Regions from separate parts of the Homo sapiens genome. Here regions 1, 2 and 4 are each reported to be linked to region 3. Evidence: microRNA targets listed by miRTarBase, many of them from high-throughput screens and not tested one by one. Region 3 holds a microRNA gene; each other region holds the end of a gene's coding sequence.
The links. The annotated mature microRNA hsa-miR-3157-5p reads UUCAGCCAGGCUAGUGCAGUCU and lies in region 3 at 4,397-4,418, opposite strand. An mRNA with a match to its seed (bases 2 to 7 or 8) in the 3' UTR can be bound and repressed. Matches are read on the target gene's strand: a 7mer-m8 pairs with bases 2 to 8, a 7mer-A1 pairs with bases 2 to 7 and ends in A, and an 8mer does both.

Region 1 (7,120 bases), not on the chromosome of region 3:
TGTTCCATGTGAACTTGAGAAGAATGTGTATTCTATTTTTATTGTTGGGTAGAATGTTCTGCATATGTCTGTTAGATCTAGTTAGTTTGTTGTGCTGTTTAAAGCCTCCATTTCCTTACTTATGTCTTATTGTTCCATCCATTATTCAAAGCAGGGCACTGACATTTCCAACTATTATTATAGAACTGTCTATTTCTCCTTTCTCCCTTCTATTGTCAGTTTTCATTTCATATATTTTGATGATCTGTCATTGTATGTGTAAATGTTTACAATTGTTACATCTTGCTGAATTGAATCTTTTATTAATGTCCATCATTTCTTGTAATCATTTTTTATTTAAACTATATTATTATAGCTACCTCTGCTCCCTGTTGATTACTATTTGCATGGAATATCTTTTTTTTTTTTTTTTTTTTTTTTTTTTTTTTTTTTTTGTGAGAGAGGGTCTTACTCTGTCTCCCAGGCTGGAGTACAGTGTTGTGATCTTGGTGCACTGCAATCTCCACCCATCAGGCTCAAGGAATATTCCCACCTCAGCCTCCTGAGAAAGCCACAATGCCCAGCTAATTTTTGTATTTTTTTGGTAGAGATGTGGTCTCTTCATGTTGCCTAGGCTGGTCTCAAATTCCTGGGCTCAAGAAAACCACCTGCCTCAGCCTCCCAAAGCGCTGGGATTACAGACATGAGCCACTGTGCCCAGTGAATATATTTTTCCATCCTGTCACTCTCAATATATTAATACTGTGTCTTTGGATGTGAGTCTCTTGTAGACAGCATACAGTTAGATCCTGTTTTTTCCCCATTCTGCCAATCTCTGTCCATTTAATCTATTTACAGATAAAGTAATTATCAATAAGGAGAGACTTACTTCTGTCACTTCATATTCTATATGCCTTATATCTCTTTCATTTCTTGTATTGCGCCCTTCTGTGTTTTTTTTTAATGAAACATTTAAATCCCTTTCTCACTTCCTTTTGTGCATACAGCCATGCATTACTTAACAACAGAAATATGTTCTGAGAAATGTGTTTTTAGGTGATTTCATCATTGGGGGAACAACATACAGTGTATATGTATCTACACAAACCTAGCCTACAACACACCTAGGCTATATGATATAGCCTATTGCTCCTGGGTTACAAACCTGTCCACCATGTAACTGTACAAAATACTGTAGGCAATTGTAATGCACTGGTATTTGTATATCTAAACACATGTCCAAATTTAGAAAAGGTAGTAAAAATACAGTATAAAGGATTAAAATCAGTACACTTGTACAGGGCACTCAGTCCATTGTATGTTGCTTATAACAGAACACCTGAAATTGGCTACATTATAAGAAAAACATGAATTTATTTCTTAGAATTATAGCAGCTGAGAAGTCCAAGGTTGAGGGCCACATCAGGTCAGGGTCTTCTTGCTGGTAGGGACTCTCTGCAGACTCCCAAGGTAGTGCAGGGCATCATATGGTGGGGGCGCTGAGCATGCTAGCTCAGGTCTTCATCTTCTTACAAAGCCATCAGCCCCATTCCCATGATAATCCATTAATCTATCAATCCTTGAATAGATTAATCCAATCACCTCTTAAGGGCCCCACCTCTTAATACTGCCACATTGGGGGTCACTCAAATCATAGTAAGTACTTACCATTAATGGAGCTGGTAGAACTCAAAGTTATTTTGGGTGTAAGTGGTGAATGAATGTGAAGGCCTAGGACATTACTGTACACTACTATAGACTTTATAAACATTGTACACTTAGACTACACTAAACATAATTTTTCTTCAATAATAAATTAACCTTAGCTTACTGTAACTTTATAAACTTTCAAATGTTTTTAAGTTTTTGGCTATTTTGTAAAAACATTTAGCTTAAAACACATTGTACAACTGTGCAAAACATTTTTAGACATCTTTATAAACTTTTTTCTCTAAAAATTTTTTATTTTTTACATTATAAACTTTATTATTAAAAGCTAAAACCTGTCAATAAACTAGGTATTGGTGGACCATATCTCAAAATAATAAGAGCTATTTATGACAAACCCACAGCCAGTATCATACTGAATGGGCAAAAACTAGGAAGGATTCCCTTTGAAAACCGGCACAAGACAAGGATGCTCTTTCTCACCACTCCTACTCAACATAGTATTGGAAGTTCTGGTCAGGGCAAACAGGCAAGAGAAAGAAAGAAAGCATATTCAAATAGGAAAAGAGGAAGTCAAATTGTCTCTGTTTGCAGATGACATGATTGTATATTTAGAAAACCCCATCATCTCAGCCCAAAATCTCCTTACTCTGATAAGCAACTTCGGCAAAGTTTCAGGATACAAAATCAATGTGCAAAAATCACAAGCATTCTTATACACCAATAACAGACAAACAGAGAGCCAAATGATGAGTGAACTCCCATTCACAATTGCTACTAAGATAATGAAATACCTAGGAATACAACTTACAAGGGATGTGAAGGACCTCTTCAAGGAGAACTACAAACCACTGCACAAGGGAATAGGAGAGGATGCAAACAAATGGAAAAACATCCCATGTTCATGGATAGGAAGAACCAATATCGTGAAAATGGCCATACTGCCCAAAATAATTTATAAATTCAATGCTATCCCCATCAAGCTACCATTGACTTTCTTCACAGAATTAGAAAAAACTACTTTAAATTTCAATATATTGGCCCACTACCTTCTGGCCTCTAGTTTCTGATGAGCAATCTGCTGATAATCTTATTGAGCAGCAGTCCCCAACCTTTTTGGCACCAGCGACTGGTTTTGTGGAAGACAATTATTCCACAGACCAGGGGGCACAGGACGATGGTTTTGGAATGGAACTGTCCCACCTCAGATCATCAGGCATTAGATTCTTATAAGGAGTGTGCAACCTCGATCCCTGGCACGTGCAGTTAGTTCATAAGAAGGCTTGCATGCCTATGAAAATCTAATGTCACCACTGATCTGACAGGAGGCAGAGCTCAGGTGGTAATGCTCACTCACCCACCACTCACCTCTTGCTGTGTGGTCTGGTACCTAACAGACTGTTAACAGTCTGTGGCCCAGGGCTTGGGGACCTGTTACTGAGGATCCTTTGTATGTAGCAAGTTGCTTCTCCCTTGTTGCTTTCAAAATTCTCTGGCTTTGGCTTCTGAAATGTTGGTATCTGTGTGGTCTCTTTGAGTTCATCTTACTTGGAATTTGTTGAGCTACTTGGATGCTTATATTCAGGTCTTTCATCAAATTTAGGAAGTCTTCAGCCATTATTTCTTCAAGTATTCTCTCTCTCCCTCAACCCCACTTCTGGAACTGCCAACATGAAGGCCAGCACTGTGGCAGGAACCAGGCAAATACTGGAGGTTAGTTATTTCTCTGCCATGTACTCCCCATTGGTTTATGCTGATCATTCCAGTAGAACCACTTTGAAATAAATCAGCTATATTCATAATCTGAAATCAAACACAATAACCAGTTTGCATAAATATAACATCTAAAAAACCATCTGCACCAAAACAGATAGAACCAAAATACAAATAACCCACAAGAAAAAGTAAGAAGTATATGGAGGTTATAATTCTTAATAGAAAGAGACTCCTACATGTCAGTAAGAAAAAACTTGACCATAAGGACTGCCAAATCTGAACAAAATACATCAGATAAGAACTAAAAATGGCCATGAACACGAGGACATATTCAACATGACCAGACACAACACTTATTTGCCTATCAAATTGTTAAAGAGTTATTTTAATCTTGAGCACATGTCCATTGCCAACATTACTTGGCATCTGCAAAGAGGCCTTTTCCATGCTGTCATCCTGCCCTTCTGGAGGGCAGCAGGTACCCAAAGCTTCACACCTGGCATGAACTCTGACCCACTCACTCTACCTATAAGAACTGAGCCCAAGGCAGTAATTGTAATCATGGCAGTGTAAACGTGCATCTGGGCTCACTGCAGTCCTGTTGAAACAACGCTGATGTACGGCAATACAGCAAATACTACATTTACTCATGGCACACTTGTAAAATACAGCCACTGAAACATGTAGAAGAATATATGTAATAGATTTTAAAGTCTATAATTTATTAAGTACAAAAGCAAATTATTTAAAAAAGCACTTGATCCTAATTTTGTAAAAAATTTTTAAAAAGAAAAAATAAATCCCTGAGAGGGTTTATGTTACATACGAATGCTGCTGTTTACTCAGAGGTAGAATTATAAGAAATTTTAATTTTCTTTATACTTTAATGTGCTTTCTAGATTTTATGCTATAAGCATAACTGCTTTTATAGTCAGAAAAAAAGCAAAATAAGATACAACCTATTCGGGGTAATTTAAAGACCCTTTTCACACATTTCAAAATGCAGAATTACAAAGTCAATAACTTTTATTAACATAATGATATAAAAATTTTAGTGTGATATACAGAATTCCCAGAGTAATTCTAAAACATTTTAATGCACTTCTTAAAATCTTAATTTACAAGACACCTTGTCTTACCACCACTGACCTTTCAATACAAAAAGCTGACAATTTTTGTTTGCTATAAAACTACAACATTAAGATTGGAGTTAGGTAGTTTTTTTTTTTTTTTCTTTCCCTTCCCAGCCATTCTATTGTAAGGAATGTCCATTAGACTACTTCCCAAACCTCTGTATGTCAACAATAAGTTACATAGATTCTGTACATACTTACAACAGGATTATTAGAATTCCAGTATGTCACAACATACTTTACCACAGTCCAACACCATGGGGAAACAGGGCTACTATGCACAGTGCTATTTGTAGCCAGACAGGAGTAAAACATGAGAGCTGGCCCAGTTAGCCAGACTCATGTGTGGAGAATTAATAACAGCTTTGTTAGGCACTGATCCAGACTAATTCTGGAAAAACCTGGTTGTTTCTGTGAAGCATGCATGATTCACAAAATTTGCCACCCTCAATACCCCAAAAACCCAACAATTTCGTAACATACTCTTCATTAGCTATATAAAAATAATCTATGTCTTAGATTCGTGCTTGACTTCAAATTCTTAGAAGTAACTAAAGGACTTTACATTCTCTTCTTTGATTTAGGTTCTGTATAATTTTAGATCACTCAGCTTAGTCAAGTTTGAACAAAATAATAAAATGGTTTGGCCAAATTTTATAGGCACACAACTCAAAATGCAAAAAGCAGTGAAGAATGTAACCATCTCCACCTTCAATACGGGGCAATGCTGTTCCCTGCTCCCCTCAACTGTACTGCCGGTACTCACCAAACAGCACTATGGATATGAAAACCTTAGACTTTACCACAATGCTTCCAAATCTGCTGACTTGGAATAAAAATAATAAATCAGTACACTTCCACGAGAAGAATTAATATTGTAGTGTTAGGAAAACTAGCAATTTAACTAAACAGCATCAAGTTACAAACCAGGAAAGTGATTTAAAACTAAATGCTGGCTTATCTTTCTGAAACAAAGCATCTAAATTTGACAGTCCAAAATGGCACTTATTGAGTGTCCGTGACAATACATGCTGACAAGCAGCACACCTCTTTTTTGTTTTTTTAAGACGGCATCTCGTGCTGTCACCCAGGCTGGAGTGCAGTAGCGTGATCTCGGCTCACTGCAAGCTCCGCCTCCCTGGTTCATACCATTCTCCTGCCTCAGCCTCCCAAGTAGCTGGGACTACAGGCGCCCACCACCACACCCGGCTAATTTTTTGTATTTTTAGTAGAGACAGGGTTTCACCATGTTAGCCAGGATGGTCTCGGTCTCCTGACCTCGTGATCTGCTCGCCTCGGCCTCCCAAAGTGCTGGGATTACAGGTGTAAGCCACCGTGGCCAGCCAGCACACCTCTTTCAATAAAGGAACTGGCAGAGGAGGCACTGTGTGTGACCACAGTGCCCTCTGTGAGCAGGGAGGATGGGTCCAGCTTGCTTCCTTTTTCCATCAGCCTCCCTGTGAAACAGAAGTGAGGCAGCTGGTTTGTACTCTGCTATCTTCCCAGAATCAAGTTTCTCCCCGTAAATGGTCTCAAGTTTCTCCCGTAAATTCTATATATGAACTTGTCATTTGAAGTGGGAATAAATAACTGAATTTTAAAAATCAGGAACTATATTTTTAGCCTAAAGAAAGTGCAAACTTGCAGTACAGCAGAGAACAACCTCGGTGCCTGTGATTCCTCACAATGCCCATGCCAGGCCTTTCCTTTCCTTTCCTTGTCTCTCCATCTGTTAAAATACCAGCATCCGTGTTTTTGTAAATGTACTTGGCAGATTCAAAATATTTCTTTAAATAATTCAGGAAGTGCTTTCTAAAAGGAGATGCGGGGATTGTTGAGAGGGATCTGTAAGAGCACAGGAAGGGCGAGTCCCGGTGAGTGAGCTCTGCGGTGTCTTCCCACATCACACCTTGGACTGCTGGGGCTCATTCATCTCCGGCACCTGGGCCGGTGTGCTGCGCTCACATGTTGTAGGCGACATAGATGGGGTCCAGCTGGTCAGCCAGGAAGCCGTCCCGCAGGTGCATGCGCTGCTTCTCACCCCGAGAGTTGATAGGGATCACCCCTGGGTCCACGATGACCACCACTCCCACGACCAGGTAGTGCTCCTCCAGCACCACGTTGGTCACCAGGGCCACCAGGTCCAGGGCATCCTGCTCTAGCCCATCCAGCTCCACCACCACCACCAGCAGGTTGGTCCAGGTGAATACGGCACTGCAGAGAGAAGACAGACTGGGTCACATGGATACAGGCACAGGTCACAGGGGCCAATGAATGCTTGGGAAAGGGTGGCACAAAGAAGAGTGAAGCCCACCAATGTCACACAGCTATTTAAGGCCATTTACAATCTAAAGATCAGGCCAGATCCATTTTACAGGATGTCTATTCCAACTAAAGCTTTTACTGAGAATCAGAGCATTATCTGATGCTGAAAGCTGTACCTGTCCCAACACAAGTTCCCTACAGGTGAAGGAATCAGGAGTCACAACCATGTGAGAAACTCATATTAAAAGTAGAAACACTTCAGGATGAGACCTGTGGAAATCTACATTTTGCCTGTGCATTTGGGGACAATCTCTTAGCTTACCACTGATAAGGAAACAGATAAAAAAACAAGCCAAACC
Region 2 (7,120 bases), not on the chromosome of region 3:
TGGTAGACCCACAGATGTTGCTTTGGTGGGAATCTGATTCTACAAAGTCTGTAAGCTGAGCTGCTTTGGACGTGGCAGAAGAAGGGTTGGCTCTTCAAGCAAGTTCTTTTCAGGACCCATCCCAACCCACCCGAGTATCCAGTGTCTTGCGCATCTGTGAGCTTTTCATGTAGTTGCTGAGTCACGTGAAACAGGAAACCTTTTCCTGCGACTTACTGTTGTCCTTCCCAACCACTGGGACTCAGTTCTCTTTGTTTACTCTGCAGGTAATGGGTAAAGTGCCAACCATATCCATCAACAAAACAGATGGCTGCCATGCTTACCTGAGCAAGAATTCCCTGGATTGTGAAATAGTCAGTGCCAAATCTTCCGAGATGAATGTCCTCATTCCTACAGAAGGCGGTGACTTTGTAAGTTTCTTGATCTCTTTAGTATGATGTTAAAAACAGAAGGGACTGAAGATTTCTGGCATTGAAGAAAGCTATTTTATGAACATTCTGCACTGAGCAGGTAAAAACCCAATAATGCACACCAAAAGTACACAGAAATGAGGTAGTCCCATGTAGTGGAGCCCCAAAGGTAGGTGCTTTCTGCCTAAGTGGAGCTCAAGGTAGCAAAAAATAATGGGGATGAGCCATGGCACCTTGTCAGGCTGGTGCTATAAAGCCATATGTACTGTTATTTACACCCCATAGACTTAATAGTCTGTCCAAGATCGCTGAACACTAGAACATAGCATGGCTCTGTGGGTTTGTCTCTTGCTACATTGTACCGTGCTCCTGGGGTTAAGTGGAAGCAAGCATTGGGAGAAATGTGTGAGATTTAGCCCCAGCTGTTCTTTAGCTCAGATTTAAACCTGCTGTCTCTTCTTTATTTGCAGAATGAATTCCCAGTTCCTGAGCAGTTCAAGACCCTATGGAACGGGCAGAAGTTGGTCACCACAGTGACAGAAATTGCTGGATAAGCGAAGTGCCACTGGGTTCTTTGCCCTCCCTTCACACCATGGGATAAATCTGTATCAAGACGGTTCTTTTCTAGATTTCCTCTACCTTTTTGCTCTTAAAACTGCTTCTCTGCTCTGAGAAGCACAGCTACCTGCCTTCACTGAAATATACCTCAGGCTGAAATTTGGGGTGGGATAGCAGGTCAGTTGATCTTCTGCAGGAAGGTGCAGCTTTTCCATATCAGCTCAACCACGCCGCCAGTCCATTCTTAAGGAACTGCCGACTAGGACTGATGATGCATTTTAGCTTTGAGCTTTTGGGGGTTATTCTACCAACAAACAGTCCATTGGAAAGAAAACAGTCCCTGGAATTAACAGATCAGAATGTTCACACTGGTTAATCTTTTTTTAACAATGAGCATGAAGGTAGCAGAAGCTGGTGTGTTTCCAGATGGTTCTTCTAACCAAACTAATTTTTCACTGTTGACAAGCGAGGCAAGGGTTGCACTGGACCAAAGGCTGAGGCTTGGCCATCTAGCATTCCATACAAAATTGTTTCCTATAAGCATTCCTTTTATTCTCTATTCTATCCTGGGTCTGCCTCAACCGTGAGATAGGAGAGTCTCTGGTACTAGCTGCTGTAGCAGTGCCCTTCATCCAGGGCAGTTAATGGAGTCTTGGACCCTTTCTTTCTCTGGGATCCCTGCCCAGCACCTTCCTATAGAGATGACTTTAAAAGGAAAAAAAAAAAAAAAAAAACCCACATGATTTCAAGGAGTCTGGCATTCCTGAATCCTTCTTCCCTGCCAGGTGCCTGTCACCTGTCTTCACTGCCTCCTTTTCCCTGTCATGCTCATCAGCTTATGGCTTCTGTCTAAGCACCTGAACAGAGGACTGAAACCTCCACTGCAGGCTGGTTTTAGGTCTTGAATTATGTAAGAATCTTGCACAGCACTGCTAATGTAAATTTCAGTTGTTTTTCCCTCTAGGACAAACACTTACCAAAATATGCAACTTTTTTTTGGTGGGAAGAGAGATTGTCCTGTGATTTCTACCCATTTCCTGAGGCCTGTGGAAATAAACCTTTATGTACTTAAAGTTATACAGAAAATAGAATAAAGTTAATACCAAACTTGCTTAGTTGTTTACCTGTGATATTGGCTGTACAGAAATGCAAAAAATACTGAAAACACCAAGGATAAGAAACTACTCTTTATTTTAGACAACCTCATAAAATTATTTTCACATCCCCCCCAACTTCTTGCTCTTAATCCTCATCTTTTAGTTGAAGAATAAGGCTTAAGAGAGAGAAAGGAAAAACCATAATGGCTAAACTTAGCAGCACCAACACGGTTCTTTCATCAAGGCGTAGCTCATCATTTCTCCAAACTGACATGCTACAGAAATGTCTTCCAAAAAGCGTTAAGTTTTCACAGAGTGGGGACTATGATTTCCATGCTCAAATAGTGTAGGAAATGGTAGATTACGTTAGTTTTGTTTACTGTAACAGGAATTCTCAGGAGTCCTTAGACACTCTAATGTGGGTTGATCTCCAGAAGGAGAAAGGGAGTGTGTAGTATTTTCCAAGCTTTTTGAGCAAACAATCCTTTTCTCATGGAACACATCAGAAACAGTTTGGAGTATGCTGGTAAATGTGTTTTGGGGATGGAAGTCAGAAAGCCTGATCTTTTTCATATGGTTCCTCCTATTCTCTGCTAAAGCCAGCAACAGAGTAAGTTGACTCTAGCATCAAGACCACTAGTCATATTAAGAAAGGGCAGGTTGGTCGAGAATGGAATAGGAAGAACTAGCTGCCTCACTTTTCACTTTCGCGCCTACATTTTCTTCGCTCCCTAAGTTATACAAGATGTACATTTCCTCTCTTAAGCAACTTAATTTGGGTGCTACTTCCCTCCTTTTGTGACAGCAACTAATTCATCACTACCTGAGGAGACAAAGTGGGTGCTGCAGAAGCAAGACTGTAGGCCAGTGGGATTTGTCTAATAATTGATGATAAGATGATAGCACAGAGGGCAACGTACTGAGAGAGGAAGGCAGCCTTAAGAAATGATGCAGAAATAGCCAAGCAAGATTTTTCCAAGCACTGGTTAAATCACCAGCAAAACAAAGCATTTATGTGAGTACCTCAGGCCTGGGCACCTCTTTGCTTGAAATATGGCAAGACTTGGAAAAATGTTTGCCCTTAGAATCTATCTCACTACTTTAGTTAGTTGTCTCCTTTGGGCCTGGGCACAGTTCTGGCACTGATCTGGAACAGACTCCCTTTTCTAAAACTGAACTTGACCACATCAAAAGTTTGTAAAACAATCTCCATGGTAATTAAACTTGCATTCAACACCATATGGTAACAGAAGATGGCAAAGGATAAGATTCAGATCTTAGATCTTTCCAAGTAGGGCATGTTAGATGATAGAAGGATTAGTTGCAAGCTGGATCTGAGCTCAGGCTTGGGCATGAAGGAAACTGTCTCCCATGTGGTTTGGAAGAGTTAGGGGCTCCCTGAGCTCTATTGTGAACTATACGGGTTTCATCCAAGGAATGGTATGATGTGGGCATAAAACCATTCTTCAGACAACTGAAGATGGTCCCCTTCTGTAGCCAGAAACACTAGCTGTCCTGCATTGTCCATTTCCTTTAGCCCCAGGCGGTCCTGCAGAAGGAAAGGCCATAATTAATTAAAAAGCTTAATGAAGTTTTGGAGTAAAATGGTAAGTACGTTAACTTGAGATATATTTTCAAAATGCAGTTTGTCCTGAGTATTAAAATTGAGGTGTATTTTCAAAAATGCCAAAAAGAATATCTCCTACTTCTTTTTCTTTCTCTTTTTTCTTTTTCTTTCTTTCTCTTTCTTCCTTTCTTTTCTTTCTTCTCTCCTCCCCCTCCTCCTGTCCCCCCCGCTTCTTCTTCTTCTTCCTCTCTCTCTCTCTGTCTCTCTTTCTCTTTCTTTCTTTCAAGACGGAGTCTTGCTCGGTTGCTTAGGCTGGAGTGCAGTGGTGCGATCTCGGCTCACTGCAACCTCCACTTCTCTGGCTCAAGCGATTCTCCTGCCTCTGCCTCATGAGTAGCTGGAATTACAGGCGCATGCCACCATGCCTGGGTAATTTCTTGTATTTTTAGTAGAGATGGGGTTTCACTGTGTTAGCTAGGATGGTCTTGATCTCCTGACCTCAGGTGATCCACGTGCCTCGGCCTCCCAAAGTGCTGGGATTACAGGCGTGAGCCACCACACCCGGCCAGTTTTTTCTAAGTATTAAAAATAGATATGCAATTGAGATTGCTCTATACAGTGTTCTAGATTCTGATTTTTGAAAAGCTCAGAGTCAGAGGACTACCTATAGGTGGGCAAGCCATAGACGACACTGCCTCAGAATGCCATAGGTAAGTGGGACTGAGCCAAAGACAGAACATTAGCTAGGTAACTTAAAAAACATCCAACCCAGGACAGGCGCGGTGGCTCACGCCTATAATCCCAGCACTTTGGATGGCCAAGGCAGGCGGATCACCTGTGGTCAGGAGTTCAAGACCAGCCTGACCAATATGATGACACTTTGTCTCTACTAAAAATACAAAAATTAGCTGGGCATGGTGGCGGGCACCTGTAATCCTAGCTACTTGGGAGGCTGAGACAGGAGAATTCGCTTGAACCCGGGAGGCGGAGGTTGCAGTGAGCTGAGATCATGCCATTGCACTCCAGCCTGGGCAATGAGCAAAACTGTCTCAAAAGAACAAAACAGAAAAACCATATCCAACCGTTAGGTAACAAACCCTGGACACTTTCATATTCTGGAGTTGAAAATGTCATTACCCATAGCCTAGATGCTGGAGAACAACCTCTGGTTGGGAAGATAAGCAGTTACGACAGTGCCAGAATGGTGCTTCTGCCGTGGCCAACATCATTTTGAGTTTTCACAGTAAGGAAGTTCTTAGCTGTAATTTCTCAAGCCTTTTTTTTTTTTTTTCTCAAATCAGATTCTAGCTTCCCTTTTTACCTCACCACCCAAGTTGAGGCACCCAGTGCAAAAGAAAAGCCAAGCCAAGAGGAGACAAATGACCTCTGAAATAACATGGAGGAATTCTAGTAGACGGTGATTGGTTCAGATGTAGTACTTAGCATTTTGGAGAGTCTGTCTCCAATATAAAATCCTTAGGGCTGGGCGTGGTGGCTCACACCTGTAATCCCAGCACTCTTGAAGGCTGAGGCAGGTGGATCACCTGAGGTCAGGAGTTGAAGACCAGCCTGGCCAACATGGTGAAACCCCGTCTCTACTAACAAAACAAAGTATTAGGCATGGTGGCGTGTGCCTGTAATCCCAGCTACTAGTGAGGCTGAGGCAGGATAATCGCTTGAACCCAGGAGGTGGAGGCTGCAGTGAGCTGAGATCACACCATTGCACTCCAGCCTGGGTGACAAAGCAAGACTGTCTCAAAAAAAAAAAAAAAAAAAAAAAAAAAAAAAAATCCTTAAAGTGTAGAAGGCCCCAGAACTGGAGGTGGCAAATTACTGCAACTTCTGCTTAAGATACAGGACCTACTGCTAAACAAAATTCAAAACTCTAGTCCCACTCAACCTCCTGCAGGAGCCTCCCTTGTCAGTGCGTAATTTAGAAACAGGATTTCACATCTATTAATGTTTAAAAGTAATGTCCCTTGGCCAGGCGCACTGGCTCACGCCTGTAATCCCAGCACTTTGGGAGGCTGAGGTGGGTGGATCACCTGAGGTCAGGAGTTCAAGACCAGCCTGGCCAACATGGTGAAACTCCATCTCTCCTAAAAATACAAAAATTAGCCAGGTGTGATGGCACACACCTGTAATCCCAGCTACTAAGGGGGCTGAGGCAGGAGAATTGCTTGAATCTGGGAGGCAGGGGTTGCAGTGAGCCAAGATTGCTCCACTGCACTCCAGCCTGGGTGACAGAGCGAGACCCCGTCTCAAAGAAAAAAAAAGGAATGCCCCTCATCATGCATGGAGGCTTCCTGGATTTGTAGCAGACTGTACCTCAGCCAAGGCAGCTAGTTTTAAAACCTTTTTATCAAAAGAAGGGAATCAGACATGAGGTTTCTCTTGTTGTTTGGAAACCATAAGGTTTCAGGATGTAGTGGATTTTTGTAACCCAGTGCCTAATAAGCTAGAGCACATAATCAAGAGCCTAACAAGCTTCACCCATATTGGACATGAGTCAGGTGTTTCAGGAGTACCTAGTGCTCTGAGGTGTAAAGGAAAGGGCTCCAGCACCAAAGAACATAGCAGCTTCAGGAACTGGGAGCTGAAAAAACACCAACCTCCCAAGATAGACTCCCTGCCAGTTACCTGTGTGTACAGGGAGGTCTCCTGTAAGGGAATGGTTTCCTTGGCTTGGCCACTTCTGTAAAATCCAAACCACTGCAGAAGAAGCAAAGGAAAGAAGCTCAGATATGACACACAGCACATACTGCCAAAATAATTTGAGACTGGTTAGAAGCTAAAACTGCCAACAAAGTGAACATCATAAAGCTGTAGGAAGAAGGAAAAATGGATAGGGTGCGTCTGAGTCATCTCTTCTTAAGGGTGGAGCCCGAGGGATGAGTTAATCTTTCTGAGAGGCCGCTTTCCACTTCCCCAGAATTTCTGCTTCCTAAAATTATTAAGCAATAAATGTGAAAAATTCCTGTGCTGAGCTCTAGACATTCAAGGATGAATACATAATCTGTTTCCAAAAAGCTCCCAGTCTTGCAAGGCACGGAAACAATTCACTGTTGAGTACAGAGGTCAGCAAACGTTTTTGTAAAGGCCAGATACAAAATATTTTAGGCTTTAAGGGCCATATGGTTGTAACTACTCATTGCTGCCACTGTAACAAATGCAGCCACAGACAGTATGTAAAAAGTAACTAAAACTGTTCCAATAAGGACACTGAAATTTAAATTTTACATAATCTTTATATGTCCAAATACTTGATATGTCTAAATAAATTTTACATAATCTTTATATGTCCAATTCTTTCCCCCAACCATTAAAAAATGTTAAAAACATTCTTTTATGTTAGTGTTTGGTGTTACTCGTGGGTAGCACCAAAACGGGTAGCAGGATGGACTGGGCCTGTGGGCCACAATCGGCCAATCCCTGGTGGTGTGACATAACGTGATGAGTGTTTTAACAGAGGCTGATGATTCTAAAAA
Region 3 (7,120 bases):
AGATAAAATGAAAAACCACTCAGGTAAGAACACTCACTCATGGCAGTTTTTAAGCATGAAAATTGTTTTCTGAAAGTATCATCACTTTTCCTTTTTAAAGAAGGCTGCTAATTGGATTTTGGTAGTTCTTACCTCAAGAAAACTTGAATTATTTGGGGGAAAGTAGGCTCAAAAGAGAATATATCTTTCACATTCACATTCAGAACCCAGCAACCTGGAGTCCAATTTTCAGTATTTTAACTACCTCAATAATGCTATGAATGTAAGATATTGGGATAGAGATCCCAACTTGAAACAACAGCCAGTGCCTGTGGTAACTTAATGTCTTGTCAAATACTTTTATTGATTGGTTTATATGCCATTCTTGTTATAGAAGAATATGCCTTTTAAAAAAGCTTATTAATAACACTTTCCCAATTTATATTTTAAAAAGCTAAAGAACACTGGATTAATAATCTTTTGGGAGGGTAGAATAAAATAATTGATTACTATTGCTGCATACCCGGGGTGGGATGGGGTGGTTGGAGAACCAGAACTATTTTTAAAACATTAGGTTTCAATATAAATACAACTCACAACTGCTAGCTTTGGGGGGTGGGGGAACATTGTGTGGGTTTTGTTTTGTTTAATTTATTGATTAGTCTTTAAAGTAGGCTTTTTTTTTTTTTTTTGAGAATACTGGACCATCATTAAATGTGTACTGTGAAGAGATTAATATGTATGAAGGGCTTTACCAAAGTCCACTAAATAAACACTACTCAAGTACAGACTGCAAACCAAAATGTATCTGTGTTACGACATTAATTGCAAATAGCAAGTATGGTGCTAAAGTCTACACCAATGGAATTAGATGAGTGCTATGCACTTAATTTTAAAATAAAACTAGTTTTCAGTAAAATGGCTTCGGTATTTTTGTTTTAAATACAAACTTGTATATTTGCAGCTCTAGTGAACCATCTCATCATGTAATTCAGACTTGGAATCATGATTTTATTTACTAAAAGCCATCAAGATGTAGAATATAGCCATTAGTGGCATAAAACATCCGTTCATTGCGTATTCCATACTGAGCATTAAAGCCCACAAAAGTATATTGGACACCACTGTTGCCTTTTTGAGCTTAAAATCAGTTGTTAGTATGTTAGCAACTACAGATTCTAATTTATTCAACAATCATGCAAGCATCAGAAAATCTGAAGTTTGATGTCAAAAGTAGGGACACAGAAAATGGTTAAAGCTATGAGAAGGAATATAGGGTCTACAGTGAGTGAGAATGGTCTATTTACCTGAGTATAAATATCATTTGCTACTTAATTCAACTCAAACCTTAGCAGATGGAATTTGTTTTGAAAAGTAAAATTTAACAGGTTTGTACAAGCGGGTTAGGAATTTACACTGCCTTTTTAAAAAACATTTTTGAAATTAGTCTCAAAACTATCGTATTGTCACTTGTTCTGGCACAGTGCCAGGGTTTAGCAGCCCTCAAGAGTTAATATACCATGTTCTTTAGGGCTGACTTTAAGAAAAAGAAAAAGCATTCCAAACCAGGCCAGGTAGCTTTGCCTTGAGGTGATCTGAGCCCCATGTGGCAAGTTTATAACCAACAACTGCCTCTCAGGCACGTGGTAAAAGCCTCCCTAGCCTCAAGCAGCTTACATCTAGTTTGATAAATACGACTAGCACACTTGCAGCAATTAGGCTAGTAGAGGCCCGCACGGTGGCTCATGCCTGTAATCCCAGCATTTTGGGTGGCTGAGGCCAGTGGATCACTTGAGGCCAGGAGTTTGAAGCCAGCCTGGGCAACATGGTGAAACCCTGTCTCTACTAAAAGTACAAAAACTAGCTGGGTGTGGTGGCACGTACCTGTAGTCCCAGCTACTTGGGAGACTGAGGCACAGGAATCACTTGAACTCAGGAGGTGGAGACTGCAATAAGCTGAGATCACACCACTGCACTCCAGCCTGGGCAACAGAGCTAGAGTCTGCCACTAAATAAAATTAGGCTGGTGTAGTCTGGAACTCGGTTTAATATCGTGTTAGTTTAGGAATCACTCAACATTCATTTTTCAATCCCTTAGATTTTAAAGTAGCAAGTACAGTCAGTTGACAGCATAAGGACCAGGCTCAGGGATCATATGGGAAGGACACCTGCTATCCTATCCTTGCCTGACTACCACTCTGTTTCCTCCCATAACACCCTCTGCCTCCCAGGTAAGCATCACCACCCTGAATTTATTAGTTCTTAAGTCCATGAAGCCTTGACATGGTATGCAATTTATATGTAAATGATTTCCCCTATTCTTAAAGTTTTGTCTACTCAAAGGGACCTGTAATTAAAAATGTAAGAGTGACTGTCTTGTATCCATTTACTTGCTAGTTTCTCCCTACTAGAACCTTGTGTTAGGCCGTTCTCGCATTGCTATAAAGAAATACTCAGGACTGGGTAATTTATAAAGAAGAGAGGTTTAACTGGCTCATGCTTCTGTAGGCTGTACAGGGAGCATGGAGCTGGCATCTGCTTGGCTTCTGGGAGGCCTCAAGAAACATGGCAGAAGGGTAAGCAGGAGCAGGAATCTCACTTGGTGGGAACAAGTGGGGGTAGGCGAAGGTGCCACACACTTTAACCAGATCTCACATGAAGTGAACTCACTATCACAAGGACAGCACCAAGCCATGAGGGATCCGCCCCCATGACAAACACCTCCCACTAGGCCCCACCTCCAACATTGGGGATTACATTTCAACATGGATTTGGGTGGGGACAAATATCTAAACTATGTCAAACATATCTTCCCTCTGTCTGCCAGGCTGGAGCGCAGTGTTGCCATTATGGCCCACTGCAGCCTCGACCTCCTGGGCTCAAAAAATTCTCCCACTTCAGCCTCCTGAGTAGCTAGGATCGTAGGCATACACCACCACATGCCTGGCTCATTTTTACAATTTTTTGTAGAGGTGGGGGTTTGCCATGTTACCCAGGCTGTCCTTTTTTTTTCTTAAGATTTTTAATTTTAGAACAGCTTAGATGTACAGAATTATTACTAAGATAGTACACAGAGTCCCCATATAGCCCACAGCCAGTCTCTCTTCTTATTAATATATTGAGATGGTACATTTGTCACAATGCACCAGTACTGATGTACTATTACTAACAGAAATCCATGCTTTATTCAAATTTCCTTAGTTTTTCCCTAATATCCTTTTTCTCTCCCAGATTCCTATGCAGGATATCACATTACCTTTAGCACTCAGGTCTTAGGCAACTCTGGGTTGTGACAGTTACTCAGACTTTGTCTGTGATGACCTCGACAGTTCTGAAAATCCGTGGTTAGGTATTTCATAGAATGAACATATGTTTCTTGAGAGCAGGGATTTTGTCTTACTCATCTTACGCCCCTGTGTGTGATAGGGATCTGATGTATGATAGCACATCATAGGCTCTTGGGATGTAGGTAACAAAAAATTGGCCAGCACGGTGGCTCACACCAGTAATGCCAGCACTTCTGGAGGCCAAGGTGGGTGGATCACTTGAGCTCAGGAGTTCAAGACCAGCCTGGCCAACATGGCAAAACCCCATCTCTACAAAAAATAAAAAAACTAGCTGGGCGTGGTGGTGTGTGCCTGTAGTCTCAGCTACTTGTGGGGCTGAAGCAGGAGGACTGCTTGAGCCCAGGAGGTCGAGGCTGCAGTGAGCCATGTTTGTGCCACTATACTCCAGCCTGGGTGACAAAGTGAGACCCTGTCTCAAAACAACAACAACAAAAATGCAGTGTAAAAGTAGGCAGTGACTAATAAACAAATGCTGCCTTGGGTTGATTTAAAAAGTAGAGTACTCTGATCATAGGAAGGCACAGTCCCATCAGATTCAGCACTGGTTAGATCGTATCTACAAAAATCTTGTGAACTGAATTTTAAGTGGAATGGTGATAAACCCAAGTTTTGCCACAAGCTGGTGATGGGTCCAGGAATCATGTTATATGAGTAACAACTGAAGGAACTGGTGGTGTTTTCACCTGGGGAAGCCTAAGGAAAGGTAAAATGCTTGTCTTCCCAGATGTGAGAAGTCCTATTACTGCAAAGGGCAGAATTAAGTCAGTGGTCCAAAGTTTCTCACATTTCAATGAATAATAAGCCAGAATGTTACAAACAGAGTAGTGCTGCTTTGAGAGTTCCTGAGTTCCTAGTTAACAGAGGCCCCTGACATAGACCAGAAATGGGATGGAAGTAATCCTTGAACTTGGGTGTAAACATCTTCCAATTCTCAAGAGCTTCTGAAGCTCTAAAGAGTTTCTGAAGAGTTTCTAAAGGTTTTATGGACCTGGGACTTGAGCTGGGTGTAGAAAGAAGGGAAAAGCTTCAGCTAGACTAGGGCAGTCATCACCCCAGTGTTGGCACAAAGCAGACTGCACTAGCCTGGCTGAAGCCCTTCCCTTCTTATATTCTCAGCTCAATTGTTGGACAGTGAGGGCAGACTCATTGAGAAGTTGTAGAGGAAATAAAGTTGAGTGAGTAGAATGAGGTTGAGTTACGGAGTTTTGAAAGCCAGAAGAGAATACAGACTTTGTGGGGTCAGAGATATCGCTGAGGATTTGTGATATGATACTGGTGATTTTAGGAAGAATGATGATTTTAGGAAGATTGGTTTTAGAAAGAATAATGATTTTAGAAAATGGTGGTTTTAGGAAGAATGATCTGACAGTATCAGGGTAGGTTAGTAAGAGAAGATGGGAGTCAGAAAGCTTTCTGCAATAATGACAAATTGAGTAAGAATGGTACATGGATATTTAATGGTACAAAGGTAAACCCTAAGAAAGAAAACAAAATTGATAGAATTGAGGGATAGAATAAAGGAAAGGAAATATACTAATTCTGTTATTACTTATAAAAGTGAATTACAGATACTGAGATACTGGCTAAATAGAAAACAGAAATACTGATTATACAATCTGTATTACAAAGTTAACTACAGGAACAAAAACACAAAGCTTTCTAATTATGAAAAGAAGGAATAAAACAAAGCAAACTTTCCATATAGTAAACTATACTTTAAAGGTATAAATAGCAAAAGTATAACAAAATAATCTGACAGAACTAAGTCCAAACATATCAAATCAATAAATGAAAACAAACTCAACTATTAAGGGAAAAAGAACTTCAGACTGAATCACAAAGTGAAACTCAAATCTATGTTGTATGAGAGACAGGTCTAAAATAAAATGATTAAGAAAGGTTGAAGATCAACGAAAAAGTAGAGATACCAGAAAAACTCAAACAAAAAGCAAGGATCAAGATCTTAATAACAGACAAGGCTGAATTTTGGCCAAAATGTATTAAACCAAATTTTAAAAAGGGCACTTTATAATGCTAAAGGTTACAGTTCATGATAAGGATGAAGTTATTAATACTTCTGGATCAAATAACTGTAGCAATATTATGCACAAACTATAAAGGTTTTACAGAGAAATAAAAGAAAAACATGGGGCAGGGTGCAGTGGCTCACGCCTGTAATCCCAGCACTTTGGGAGGCCGAGGCGGGCGAATCACGAGGTCAGGAGATCGAGACCATCCTGGCTAACACGGTGAAACTCCGTCTCTACCAAAAATACAAAAAGTTAGCCGGGTGTGGTGGCGGGCGCCTGTAGTCCCAGCTACTCCAGAGGCTGAAGCAGGAGAAAGCTCCAGGAGGCGGAGCTTGCAGTGAGCCGAGATGGCGCCACTGCACTCCAGCCTGGGTGACAGAGCAAGACTCCGTCTCAAAAAAAAAAAAAAAGATGGTAGGTAAGAAACTAATTTATTTCTCTAAGTCCATGACAGATCAGTAACATTAAAAAAAAAAAAAGCAAGGATATACAAAACCCTAACACACCATTATGGTTCATCTAATGGACACATATTAGATATTCTGAGAAGGAAATGGTGCAGACCTGGAATAACAAAGACGGCAGAGAAAACAAAGTACACCGCCAGATGTACAGAGATAGCCTGTCACGCATGCCAACAGCAAAATTCTGTCTTCTAAAGAGTCCTTAGATAACTGAAATTGCTTTCTTTGTTGACCCATCTAGGTGCCTGAGATCAGAATATCCTTACTGGCCTCTTTGCTAGCTACCAGCTAATCTGCAGCTTATCTAGAGAAAATAAAATTCATGGTTTCCAAACTGCAAAAACACTTCCACTTTTGCCTTTGTTAGATGAGGTCAATCCATTACTGGATTTCACTTTACACAACAGTATACTAATAACTGACTATATTTCTGTAAGTTTTCTTGGATAATATCAAACTCTAATGTGAGGTTTTACAAAACTTGACTATGTATTAATCCACCAAAAAACTGCAACAATTCCAAAAAGTAGAATTACTACAGAAGACATATTCTGATGAAAATGTGACTAAAAAGAAATATGTAATAGGACCAAAGAACTCAAATAATCTTTAGGTCAAATAAGAAATCGAAACTGAAATTTCAAATTATCTAGAAAATCACTTGTAACAAAAATTCTACGTATCATGAGCTCTGGGATAAAACTAAAGCAATGCTCAGAATAAAATTAACATCCAACTGAAAAAGTCTAAGAACAAGAAACCAAACAAAAGCAGGAGGAAAGAAATAAGACAAAAGCAGTAAAAATGAATTATAAAAGGGAAAAAGAAAAAAACTAATACCTACCTATACATGCAATACAACTAAACAAGAGAAAATAAAATACAGTTTAAACATTGGGAAGGAGGAGGTAAAATTACAACTATTTGCAGAATCAATGTATACCTGGAAATGCAAGGTAATCAACTGAAAAACTATCACACGTGATAAGGAAATTTAGTAAATTGGCTGGCTACACAATTAAAATAGCTCTCATATATACAAACAACAACCAATTAGATTTAATGCAAGATATACTCAATTATAATGGCCACCAAAATAAGACAAAATGGCAATAAATACAACACATGCACAAGATCTACATAAAGAAAACTCTAAAATACTTATGACACAAAAGAAAGTTGCACAAGGCATACCATATACTTTTATAGAAAGTGTAAACTTTATAAAGATGTCAATTGTCCTTAATCTATAAATTTAACATACTCTAACAAGGTAATTTTTTTAAATTACCTAAATAAA
Region 4 (7,120 bases), not on the chromosome of region 3:
AATATGAATTATTCGAACAGCAGGCAGGGTTGGGCCTGCCGTGCGTCCTCTGTACGGCCTCTTCCTGGCGGTGCTGCTAGAGATGTCCCCAGATCCAGGATCCTCGGCAGCGGCAAAGCCCAGGAGGGATGTTTCCTGCAAAATTCTAACACCAACGGGTGTGCAGCCTGCAGAAAAGTTTGCTTTTGTTTTCAGCTGACCTCACGCTGTCTTCTTCTAGCAGAGATTGAGCAAGAGCACCAGGAGGGGACAGTCCCAGGAGGGCTGGGGTGGTTGCAGCCCGAACATTCCATGGAGCCTCCAGGAGCTCGCCAGAGGGCAGTGGGCTCCCGACGCCTTGACTTTTCCTCTTTCGAGATTGTTGTAGATTCCATGCTGTTGGGTGCAACACTACAGAGACCCCACGTGCCCTTTATCGGCTTCCCCCACAGGGAAGCTTGGGTGAGCCACCCTCTAAGACCACAACACACGCCATCGCCGCACGCAGGACACACGCCATCGCCGCACGCAGGTTCCCACTCCCCTGCACTCGTGTGTGTGTGGCATGTTTAGTTTTATGTCATATATATATATATATATATATATATATAAATTTTTTTTTTTTTTGAGCCAGAGTCTTGCTCTGTCGCCCAGGCTGGAGTGCAGTGGCACGATCTCGGCTCACTGCAAACTCAGCCTCCTGCATAGCTGGGACCACAGGTGCCTGCCACCACACCCAGCTAATTTTTTTGTATTTTTAGTAGAGACGGGGTTTCACTGTGTTAGCCAGGATGGTCTCGATCTCCTGACCTCATGATCCGCCCACCTCGGCCTCCCAAAGTGCTGGGATTACAGGCGTGAGCCACCGCGCCCGGCCTATGTCATATTTTTTATCGTGGTGATAAACATAAAGTTCACCACTTGAGCTATCTGAAGTGTGCGGTTCAGTGGCTCTCCCATCACCACCCTCCACCTTCAGAGCCGGTCATCTTCCCAGCCTGAAACACTAAGCCAACAGGATTCTTTCGCACGTGCAGACTCGTGGCCCCACCGCCAACACACAGGGTGATGGTCTGAGGACCCTGGCATGGCCCTTTTGTGTCCACGGCTACCTCCACCCTCCCGCCCTCCTCAGCCCGAGGACCGCCAATCCATTCTCCTCATCGTTTCTGGAACACTCTGTAGAGGGAACCATCGTGTGTGACCTCCTGGCACTGGCTCTCCCCGGCTTGACACCTGCGGTCCCCAGGTGGACGCCATGCACGCAGAGCTGCACCCCGCCCCCGCCAAGCACTGCCGCACCCCGCGGCTCTGCAGCCTCTTTAGCGGCACCAGGACAGGTCCCCGGCACGTGTGTTCACTGATGAGACGCTCCGGTTGCCTCAGCATGTCTGCCCTTCAGGCCTCCATCCCGGGGCCAGCGCCGACCCGGGCACTGCATACAGACAAACGAGGTCTCTGTTCTCCAGGAGCTTAGGGCGGGGGGGCGACGGCGGCTAACGTGAAGTGTGGAAAGTGCGTGCACGAGAGGGTGGTGGGCCCAACTGTGCAGAGCCTGGGCGCGTGTGGCTGTCTTTGGCTTTTTGACTAGAGGGCATTTCACGGGGTGTCTGGGCAGGGCACTGGGTCACAGGGATCAGCAACACCAAAGCCTGCAGTCCAAGGAGTGGCCTCAGCATGGCTCAGACATAGGAAGGGGCAGTGGGGCTGGTGCTGTGGGCACCAGGGACTCCCAGTGAGGGGCCTGGCTTCCTGGCACAGCCACAGGGGAAGACTGAGGGGCCCGGGCACCAAGTAGGGGAGACATTAGCAGGCCACTGCCATCGTCCAGAGCGGGGTGGAGGTGACAGGCATGGCGGGACCTGGGGTGGACCCGAGGGCAGAGCTGCTGTGCTGGCGAGGTGAGGAGGCAAAGGCCCCACGCGAGACTGAACTCAGTATAGCACGTGCGCCGGGAAGCACACACGACCACAAGATGGGAAGGGAGGCTGGGAGTGGAGGCTCACACCTGCAGTCCCAGCACTGTGGGAGGCTGAGGCGGGCAAATCGCCTGAGCTCAGGAGCTCGGGACCAGCCTGGCCAACATGGTGAAACCCTGGCTCTACTAAAAATACGAAAATTAGCTGGGCATGGTGGTACATTTCTGTAATCCTAGCTATTCAGAAGGCTGAGGCAGGAGAATCGCTTGAACCTGGGAGGTGGAGGTTGCAGTGAGCCAAAATCGCGCCACTGCACTCCAGCCTGCATGACAGAGCAAGACTCTGCACCACCCCCACCGCCGCCAAAAAAAAAGATGGAAAGGGACATTGCTTGGGGTCAAACAACGTGCCCCCAAATCCACATCCACAGAACCTCAGAATATCACTATTGGAAATGGGGTCTGTGCAAATGTAACTAAAGATCTCAAGATGGGACCATCCTGGGTTTAGAGAGGCCCAAATCCCACAACTGGCTTCCAGAAGATAAGAGGACAGACACACAGGGGGAAGTTACATGAAGACAGGGCAGGGACGGGAGCCTTTGCCACTGCTAGCCGAGGATGGAGCAGGAAGGACCTCCCTGGCCTTGAGAGGCCTCACCCCCGACAAACAAGAGAATCCACTTAGGTTTTTTTTGTTTTTTTTTTTTTTTTTTCTTGAGACAGAGTCTCACTGTGTCGCCCAGGATGGAGTGCAGTGGCGCAATCTTGGCTCAAGTGATCAGGGGTTCAAGCGATTCTCCTGCCTCAGCCTCCTGGGTAGCTGGGACTACAGGTATGGGCCACCACCCCTAGCTAATTTTTACATATTTTTTAGTAGAGATGGGGTTTCACCATGTTGGCCAGGCTGGTCCTAAACTCCTGACCCCAGGTGATCCGGCCGCCTCGGCCTCCCACAGCGCTAGATGACAGGTGTAAGCCCCCATGCTCGGCCAACTTCTGTTAAGTCACCCGGTTTGTGGCACTTTGTCATAGCAGCCCCAGGAGACTAATAAGGAATAGATAAAACTTCATTTTCAAATGGACACACTACGTTTTCCTACAGCGCTGCTGTGGAGCTGGGCTTCTACAGGGGATGCTCAGGGCAAACCCCTCCTCGCCCGTGTCCAAGTGGAAGGTGGCAGGGCCCCAGGGCACCCAGACTCCACCCCACCTGGGCTGCGGCAGGAGAACTGCTTGAACCCAGGAGTCGGAGGTTGCAGTGAGTGGAGATCGCGCCACTGCACTCCAGCCTGGGTGACAGAGTGAGACTCCATCTCTCTCTCTCTCTCTCTCTCTCTCTCTCTCTCTCTCACACACACACACACACACACACACACACACACACACACACACACACACACACACTGAGTTTCAGGCCAGGCGCAGTGGCTCATGCCGGTAATCCCGGCACTTTGGGAGGCCAAAGTGGGCAGATCACCTGAGGTCAGGGGTTCGAGACCAGCCTGGCCAACATGGTGAAACCTTGTCTCTACTAAAAATACAAAAATCAGCCAGGCGTGGTGGTGCAGGCTGTAATCCCAGCTACTTGGGAGGCTAAGGCAGGAGAATCGCTTGAACCCAGGAGGCAGAGGTTGCAGTGAGCCGAGATCGCACCACTGCACTCTAGCCTGGGCGAAAGAGTGAGACTCTGTCTTAAAAAAATAAAAACAAAAGTAAAAATAGTTTAAAACTAGGAGCAGCCTGAAGGCTCCTCATGCCAGCGCCATCCTCCGTGCACCTGCCAGCGCTTACTGACGCCGTCTCTGGGTCAGGTGTTCTGAGGCTGCTGGGGATACACAGAGACCCTGTGTCCAAGGCAGCCCACACATGCTGACTGTGGGGGGGTTGGCCTGCACCCGCGGTCCCTTCCGTAACTAAAGACTGCGGTGTCGGCCGCCTCAGGCATGGCTACTAAAGACCCGCACAGACGGCCACATAGTGTACACTCCAATTACAGGATCTGTCTGGAAGGCAGGTCCCTGGGGACAGAAGGTAGACGGGTGGGTGCCCGGGGGAGGGGGAAGGCGGGTTCACGCTAACGGGCACAGGGTCTGTTTTCGGGGTGATGAAAACGTTCTGGAATTTGCAGTTTGACAGTTGCACAACCTTCTGAACATACAAAAAAACCACTGAATTATATAAAGTGGTGAATTTTATGGTATGTGAATCATATATCCCATTTGAAAAGCAGACTGACAAAAATTTGTTTCTAGGCAGGAAACAGGAAACTGGGGAAGCCAAGTGTAGCTTTACCCTACTCAGGGAGAACAGTGTTGGAGAGAAAGCTGTCAGCTTTTAGAACGCGATGGCAAAAGCTGTGTGTGTGGCAGGGAGAAGTCTTGGGGCTTTTTGCAGCAAGGAAAGTTCTGGGCAACCTTCGTGGCAGTGACTCCCCCTCTGGAGCCTCAGCTTCAGCAAAGGACGAGGGCATGTCCCCAGAGCAGCCACAGTCAGGCCCAGATCAAGGTTTCAACCCACGGGGAGGCTGGGCTGGGGGCTCCGTGCAGGGGTCGAGCCACAAGGCATCTTGAGCCTCCCCTGCAAGAGCATCAAGATGAAAGCCAGGGATAATTAACGCCGTCAGGCCTGGGGCGACTCCACAAAATCCTTTGTGGCGGCCTGAAAGAAAAAGCAAATAGATGCAAAACCCATCTCTGGTTTCTAGGATAGAAGGACCTTTGAAATTATAAGACATTAAAATAAAGCTTCGGGTAAAAGGACTGTCATGTTCTAGCTGCAGATTTGATGTGAGATCAAAACGGAATTGCTCCTGAAAGCCCAGGCACCGGCCTGCTGTGCAAAGCGCGCCCCACCCCAGCGTGCAGAGACGCGGCCCCGGACCCTTGCGGCTCATCTCACCTGAGGCTGCCGTCTCTCCTCCAAGGGCTGGGGGTCCCCTTCTGATCATCCTTCTCTGCTTCTTTGTCCCCTCCACTTTTTTTTTTTTTTTGAGATGGAGTCTTGCTCTGTCGCTCAGGCTGGAGTGCAGTGGTGTGATCTCGGCTCACTGCAAGCTCCGCCTCCCAGGTTCACGCCATTCTCCTGCTTCAGCCTCCCGAGTAGCTGGGACTACAGGTGACCGCCACCACGCCTGGCTAATTTTTTTGTATTTTTAGTAGAGACGGGGTTTCACTGTGTTAGCCAGGATGGTCTCAATCTCCTGACCTTGTGATCCACCAGCCTCGGCCTCCCAAAGTGCTGGGACTACAGGCATGAGCCACCGTGCCCAGAATGTTCTGTTTTTGTTTGTTTGTTTGTTTGTTTTTTGAGACAGGGTCTCGCTCTGTCACTCAGGCTGGAGTGCAGTGGTGCAATCACGGCTCACTGCAGCCTTGACCTCCCAGGCTCACATGATCCTCCCACGACAGCCTCTGGAGTGTCCCCTCCACTTTCTTTCTTAGGGGCCCCTCAGGGACATGTCAGAGGCCTGAGACTACTTGGGGGATGTCTATGGGCCAGGCAGGCTGCCAGCAGCTGAGCTGTCCTTGCCCTGGGGCTCCTCTGCAGTCAGGGAGACACCAGGCATGGGCCTGGCTTGGATGCATCAGTACTTGACTGCAAAGACTTAAACCACAGACAGGAAAGGCGCTGCTGCAGTCTCGACGGTCAAATGCAGGGCCCCCTCAGCTGCCATCCCACTGAGGGGCGAAGGCCCATCATCTCCCTTCGGCTCGGTAACTGCCTGGCGTAGCACAAGGGTTCTCTTTAAATCCCCAGCAAATGGAGCTGAGTGGAAATTCCGCCCCATATTACCAGGCACACGTCTCCTTCCACTCCTCACTATACCCTGCCCATGCCACGGCCGCCTTCTGAGAATAACGCTGACAGTTCCATGGCCCACAGCCCCTCTAGTTAACTTGCTGTGCACACGGCAGCCCAGCCAGAAACACGCAGCCAGGTCGGATATTGGGTGCATTCAGTCGTGAAGCCTGAGGCTTCCTGGCTCCCACTGAGCACAGAGAAGTGTTCTGAAGGACAGGAAGCAGCTGGCCTCACTGCTCTTCTCAGACGGCTGATGGAGAAAAGCTCACAGCTGCCTGCGCCGCTCTGCCTGGACTTGCATCCTCGGCCCCACCCCTTGCGCAGCAGTGAGGCCCCCCGAGACACTGGTGCCTGGGCTTGCGGTACCGCAGGGCTGCTGGACAACGGGCCAGACGCAGCCCCAGTGTGGATCCAGAGGTCTCTCTCCGTAGCAAGCCATGGAAGCACGACGGGCACTGTGCTGAGAACCCTGGTCTGCACTTCTGACCTGGGGCTCTGGCTGTGCGGTTCTGCTGAGCTCATCCGAGAGTCCACGCGTGCATGGCGGAGACCTGAGTCAGCGGCAGGGCCACCCCGTTATGGGCACCCCAACCCCTTATTAGGGGTGTTAATCAGCACAAATGAGCAACTGGCTCATCAGTCGGTGCAGGCTGACAGGTGCAGGAAATACGGAGGGCAGGCGGGGTAGGGGGCACGGAATGCTTCCCAACATGAGGGCATCTCAGGCCAGCAGGCGGGGCCCAGAGACCCAGAAGCACCACAACTCCCCCGTGTCCACAAGGCACTTTATGCATTCAAAACCACCGAATTCACACCCAGGTTTGCTCAGACAGAGGCCCAGAGGCGACCCCGCTCTGGCGTGGCTACCACCTGAGCGGCTGGCGGCCCTGGCCCAGCTCGGCCTCCGCGTAGGCGTCATACAGCACCTTCAGGTGCAACAGCAGCTGCTCCAGGTTCTCGCCGGTCAACGCCGACAGCACGATGACCTCCTGTCCCAAGTGATCCCGGAGCTGGGACAGATTGGCTTGGGCTTCAGGGAGGTCAATCTTGTTTGCGACGATTGCGTGGGGCCTCGCAGACAGGCCCTTTTCATACATCTCCAGTTCATATTTTAAATCGTCAACTTGAGTCCACGGCTCAGGCTGAGAAAGATCCACCACGAACAAGAGAAAGCGGCAGCGCTCGATGTGCCTGAGGAAGGCGGACCCCAGACCCCTGTTCTGGTGGGCGCCTCGTATGATGCCGGGGATGTCGGCCACTGCAGGGAAGACAGGGGCACACGAGGTGACCACTTGGCACACCCAGCACCCAAGAGCGCCTTCCACCTCGAGCCTGGGAGAGAAGGCCTGGAGCCCACTGCGAAGGCGGATTTCCTGAGTTCTAACACTTTCCTTTCAAGGAACGCCTTGAACTGAAGCC

Region 1: the mRNA of DIP2A is a reported target of hsa-miR-3157-5p. The part of its 3' UTR that is shown has no 7-base or 8-base seed match.
Region 2: miRTarBase lists CAP1 as a target of hsa-miR-3157-5p. Seed matches in the 3' UTR shown: 7mer-A1 at 1,120-1,126.
Region 4: miRTarBase lists MTG2 as a target of hsa-miR-3157-5p. Seed matches in the 3' UTR shown: 7mer-A1 at 4,986-4,992.

What each region holds. Positions count from the first base shown.
Region 1 is chr21:46,566,960-46,574,079 of GRCh38, reverse strand. DIP2A (disco interacting protein 2 homolog A) reads right to left here. Exons shown (of 38, transcript NM_015151.4): 38 at 4,065-6,710. The coding sequence ends at 6,458. Among named protein-coding and RNA genes, the nearest start is that of S100B, 35 kb to the left of the region's middle.
Region 2 is chr1:40,070,570-40,077,689 of GRCh38, forward strand. It overlaps CAP1 (cyclase associated actin cytoskeleton regulatory protein 1), which reads left to right. Exons shown (of 13, transcript NM_006367.4): 12 at 267-410; 13 at 881-2,079. The coding sequence ends at 964. It overlaps PPT1 (palmitoyl-protein thioesterase 1), which reads right to left. Exons shown (of 9, transcript NM_000310.4): 8 at 6,273-6,344; 9 at 2,143-3,614. The coding sequence ends at 3,492. Among named protein-coding and RNA genes, the nearest start is that of PPT1, 23 kb to the right of the region's middle. RefSeq lists an enhancer at 1-469.
Region 3 is chr10:96,059,973-96,067,092 of GRCh38, forward strand. MIR3157 (microRNA 3157) reads right to left here and starts at 4,427; the gene lies at 4,343-4,427. CCNJ (cyclin J) reads left to right here. Exons shown (of 6, transcript NM_001134375.2): 6 at 1-898. All of the region lies in intron 2 of ENTPD1-AS1 (ENTPD1 antisense RNA 1), which reads right to left.
Region 4 is chr20:62,200,522-62,207,641 of GRCh38, reverse strand. It overlaps MTG2 (mitochondrial ribosome associated GTPase 2), which reads right to left. Exons shown (of 7, transcript NM_015666.4): 7 at 4,074-6,959. The coding sequence ends at 6,565. Among named protein-coding and RNA genes, the nearest start is that of HRH3, 16 kb to the left of the region's middle.